Linked DNA regions of Homo sapiens: region 1 is linked to region 2. A link means that fine-mapping ties the variant in region 2 to the expression of a gene that starts in the linked region. Tissue or cell type: whole blood. Region 2 holds a variant in brackets; the other region holds the start of a gene. All regions are shown on one strand. Distances are between the middles of the regions.

Evidence for each region. PIP is the estimated chance that this variant, and not a neighbour inherited with it, causes the effect.
Region 1: EPHB6 starts here. The variant in region 2 is fine-mapped to the expression of EPHB6 in whole blood (TOPMed, PIP above 0.99).

Annotation. Positions count from the first base shown.
Region 1 is chr7:142,854,065-142,856,564 of GRCh38, forward strand. EPHB6 (EPH receptor B6) reads left to right here and starts at 1,012. Exons shown (of 20, transcript NM_004445.6): 1 at 1,012-1,321.
Region 2 is chr7:142,810,511-142,813,269 of GRCh38, forward strand. It overlaps TRB and TRBV30. Among named protein-coding and RNA genes, the nearest start is that of PRSS2, 41 kb to the left of the region's middle. The variant C/T (reference allele first, on the strand shown) is at 1,620.

The sequences.
Region 1 (2,500 bases), 43 kb after region 2:
TGGCAAGGCCCCAGCCCAGCTCTGTAGGACCCAAACAATAGACCCCAAATCCCCGTCCTCGGCTAGAGAAGGGGTTAGAGGTGGGCGGAAACACTTTTCCTCGCGGCGCCCCCTCGGTTCCTCAACCCTGCCTCCAGGCGCCAGCTGAGAGCACCTTGCACCGCCCCTCCTCACTGCAGGGAGGTTCTCTCCGGAGCGCGGGCGAGGGAGGAGGCACCCAGAGGTGCAGCGACTTGCCCAAGCCATGTCAGAGCCAGGCGTACAGCAGCGCTTCCCCTTTTCAACCCGACTGCCCTGCCCCTTGGGGAGGGTAGATGGAGGGAGGTTCGACTCAGAAGCCCCAACGTTGACCAAGATCCAGACACGAAAAGAGAAAAGAGTTCCCGGCTAGCACGGCGACGCTTTCATACCGAGACGCCCCCCTCTCCCGCTGCCTCGGCTCCCCCTACCACCGCCCGTACTCTCCCAGATTTCTCAGTTTGTCTTTCCCTCCACCCCCTGCTTTTCCTTCCTTCTCTCTTGCTCAGCTCACGCCCACCTTAGTTCCAAGCTGAGTAGGAGCCCCACTGTTTTAGTTCCTAGAGTTAAAGCCGAAGAGGAGGGAGGCGCGAGGGGGTGTGTGCAGGGCTCTGCCCTGCCCTGAACTGCCACGGTCCGCCAGTTGCGCTTCGCTCCGCGGGTGTCCGACCCAAGCCGAGCCCGAGCCCGAGCCCAGGCAGGGGCTTTACAGACAGCCTCTTCCCTTCCCACTTCCTGCAGGCGCCCCACGCGTGCGATCCTCCCGGCCAAGACCCGCGGGAGGAGGCCGCCCCCTTCCCGGCGCACAGGCGGGGCCCCGGGCGCGCCCCGCGTCTCCCCCGCGCGCCGGGGCGGAGGAGCGGGCGCCGCGCACTCACCGCCTAGGCCGGGAGGGCGGGCTCGGCTCCCCGGAAGAAGGGAGTGGGAAGGCGGCCAAAGGGGCTGAAGGGGCGGGCCGGGCCGGCTTGGGAGGGGACGCGGAGGGGGCGGGCCGGGCTGCGTTCGCTCCAGCCGCGGCTCTACAGCAGCGGGCGGCGGGACCCGGGACCCAGCTTGGCGACGGCGATCTCGACGCGGGCCCCCAGGATCTCCCGGCGCCCCACCTCTGGAGCAGCCCCTGCCGCCAGCGTCAGGTCCACCCCGGAATCCCAGGGACTCTCGGCGCCGAACGGACCCGGGCCGGGTGCAACGGGGTCCCCGGACTGGAGAAGACGCGGGTGGCACCGTGCGAGCTCCAGGAGCCCCGGGTCCACTGCGAGGCCTCGGGGGGCGCAGACCTGCAGAGACTGCGGCCAACGGGAAGGTGAGCCCGCGGGGTTAGCAGGCGGCGTTGTGGGGGTCGGGGACAGTATGCTTGGGGACAGAGGAATTAAGGTTTGCAAGAGTAGTGGGGCTCCTCAGCCCCTAGGTGGCTTCCTGAGGGAGTACTGAGGATCCTTCCTCAAGGCCAGAGTGGGGTTCATGAAGGGTGAGGAAACGGTCAACCTGGCTACTCCCCTCTCACTCCACTCTGACCTGGCATCATTGACACCGCATTACCCTTGCTGTTAGGATCCCCCAGTTGCGTTCCCAGACATTCTCCTCTGGCTCTGGCTTGGGAGTCCTAATCTGGGAGGGTCCTCGCAGAGACGGAGCTCCACGCTTGGAACAGGATTGCCACCCCTCTGACTCCAGTGGCATCACTCCAATCCCCTTGGAGCTGGGAGGAGTCAGGAGGCTGACCACACACCTGTCCCCTGCTCCCCACAAGGCACTGTCCCCCCCAGCTCCATGACCACAGTTAAGCCTTGGAGGTGGAAGGAACGCTTGGTTCCTGCTGCCCAGCCATCACCCCCAACGTGCAACCAAATTCTATTGCGTGCTCCTGCCCCAGCTCCACCCTCGCTCTGCTCCCTCCATCTGGGTGCTTGGCCCTGCTTGCCCCACACCCCCACCCACCGATCTTGGCCGTCTGGCACCCTCTCTCCTCCCATCCCTGGGGGAGCTGGCATGGACCCAGCATAGCAATGTTGTAATGTCCCTGGCAGCGCCCATGGAGCGGAGCTGCTGGGTCTGTTCCCAGTTAACCCAGGCCCTCCGCCCGCCAGGGGAACTTGACTGAGGCTCTAGGAGGGGAGATGCTGGTCCTGAGCTGAGAGACCAGTGGGAGGGAGCTGTGTGGGGCTGTTAGTAGACCACAGAAGCTGCCCAAGTAAGGGGCATTGGAGCATTGAGGCTTCTGAGTGCTGCTCAGTGGGGCCACTTGGCTTTTCAGAGCAGTGGGCCTTTTTTCTCAAAGGAAGATTAGCGTGGGGGTGTCTATGTACTTACCTGGTGGCCTCAGAAGGAGGACTTGTTTGGAGTCTATTACTCCATTCAGGGTGCAAAAAGATGGTTGGCAATGACACTGAGTTACCAGAATGCTGGGGAGCAACAGGCTGGGGTGGGCTGAGCATGGGAAAGGCAGGATCCTCCTTCTGGGACGGCTGTTCTGCTATCACTC
Region 2 (2,759 bases):
GCTACAATTTTATGTCCTTTGTGAAGTTTTCCAGAATTTTTGCAGTATATTACAGGAAGGAAAAATCTGCCTCAAGTCTCTACTAATTCTACTTGACTAGTGGTGATTGCCTGAGACATTTCTCTATTAATGAGGATTCTGAAGCTGTATAAAGCCCCTACAGAATCAGCATCTGAATAGGCACAGCATAGGGTTCAAGTTTCATGGTTTTGCCATCCAAGCATGTTTAGCATTTTAAATATTAATATTTATTACATACTTGTAGTTTATGATTTGAAATTTTTTAACTAAGTCTTCCTCTTGGGTAAGTTGTAATGAAAATAATCTTGTAAGCTTAAGGAGCGGAAAATAATACCTGTTGAAAATTAGAGCTTGTAATAGGGCTTTATAAACACCATCTCATTTAATACACATAACAATTCAATGAGGCAAGTTTTATAGGTGGGGAAAAACTTGAAACTTAGTAAAATTAAATAACTAGGTCAAGTTCATAACAACTAGCAAATTTTTAGACTACAAAAATCAAGTGCTTTGACTAAATCATGCTATGACTGTGCCCAACACCATCTCGAGTACATTTTATTTTTCTTTTTAATCCTCAAAATGACTCACTGTGTCCAGCAAATAATAGCTGCTTAATACATAGGTGATCCTTAAAGTTCAGTAGGGACCCCTGGGCATTATTCCATATGTTCTTGATCACTCTGTGTCTACATCTCAGATTTTCCACTTCAGATTAAATGATACTAGAAATATGCACGTGTCTGGATTGATCTAGGTTAAATGATGCCCGGAATGGAGTATTTTAAGACATCTTGTGCCCCCTTGTGGAGGGGAAGGGACATTAGAAAGAAAATCTTTTTAAGAACAAGGACTAGGGAGGGATGGGGATGAGGAAGGAAGCTCAGTTGCCAAGGTAACCATCGAACCTCTTCCCAGCCATCCACATCAGCCTTTTCCTCTCCTTCATTTCCATCCAAGTGATTTCTCTTTTTTAGAGCTCAACCATTACACACACGGTCCTCTTCTTGCGTATCTCTTGGATCACCATCTGTCTGTCTTTGCTACAAAGGAAGGGCTACAAGATAGTACAACAGGACATTTTTTAAAACCTCAAACATCACCAAAATTTCTAAGTGCAAGCTTATTTTTATTTTTTTTTTTTTTGAGACAGAGTCTCGCTCTGTCACCCAGGCTAGAGTGCAGTGGCATGATCTTGGCTCACTGCAACCTCCACCTCCCAGGTTCAAGTGATTCTCTTGCCTCAGCCTCCCAAGTAGCTAGTATTACAGACGCCTGCCACCACGCCCGGTTAATTTTTGTACTTTTAGTAGAGACAGGTTTCACCATATTGGCCAGGCTGGTCTCAAACTCCTGACCTCAGGTGATCCTCCTGCCTCAGCCTCCCAAAGTGCTGGGATTACAGGCATGAGCTACCACGTCTGGCCTAAGTGCATGTTACCTATACTAACAAAACCACACTTCTGCCTCGAATGAGAACAGTCTCCTGAACATCTTGCCTCTTTGCCTGACTCAAAGCCTCAGGTCTAAGCCTCCCCATAATTTCTAGTCTCAGCAGAAAGATCAATGACAGGAGACTCTCCAGGTGATGAAATTAA[C/T]CAATTAAGTAACCTGGGTTGGCATCCTCCCGTTTGTTCACCAGCTCACCTCCTGCCACAGGTATATCCTTTCTCTCAGCCATATATGCACAAACCCCCTCCCCACGGCACACATAGAAGAATTTGGAAGACTAGAAAATCAGGCAAGGTATAGCACACCTTGAGGGCTGGAGTATGGTAGCCTGGGCCGGGACATCCATACATTGAGAACTTGACTATGTGCAGGCAAATCACAGGTTCTGCACACATACAATTTTTTGTTCTCCCTGAGAACTTAGTAGAGTCTTTTGTAGAATTCTCGCTTTATTCCATTGCTTTCACATTGGCCAGCAGTCAGAAACCTACTTACAAATATCCTCCACCCAGTCCCTAAGTGAAGGCCCCTGGGGAGTATGGTTAGGGCTCAGGAGAGGGTGGGGTTTTTGCACAGATGTCTGCCCCACCCAGCTCAGTGTGACACTCCAGGCACAGAGATAGAAGCCAGAGTCACTGAGAAGGAGCTTCTTAGAACTCAGGATGAACTGCCGGTCCTGGGGTCTGGAGGCTGAGAGATTCTGGGGCACCTCAGAGCTGATCTGGCCAATACCAACGGAGTAGAAGAGCAGCTGGAGGCCCCTGCCTGCAGCCTGTCGGTACCAGTATAGGTTGGGGTTTGATGTTCCCTCCACAGTGCACTCCAGAGAGAGCGGGCTGCCCACAGGCTGCACCAGGGTCGCTGGCCATTGATGAATAGTCTGAGATCTGACCCCTGTGGGAAAGATAAAGTGCCATTTACAGAGGAGCACCCCAGCCTGGCTTGCCTTCCCCAGACAGAGGGGCAGCTCAAGCTCTTGCATGACACAGGCACCTGGAATCCATCATGGGGAGTAGACTGGGGGAGCCAAGGATGCAAAGCATCCCTGGGCCAGGGAAGACCAACAGAACGAACTCCTTCTCAGGAGATAGAGAGAACTAAGAATCATCAGATCAGCCCCTAAGGCTAAATTCCCATATCTGTTCCAGACAATCAGGAATAGACTCAAGAGTGTCAAACCAACAGCTCAGACTCTGCATTCACGGGATTGGGGTGAGGGTGAGGATGAGAAAAGAGGCTTGCCAGAGAGGAGGGCACCCACCAAAGAAAGTGCCCAGGAGAAGGGC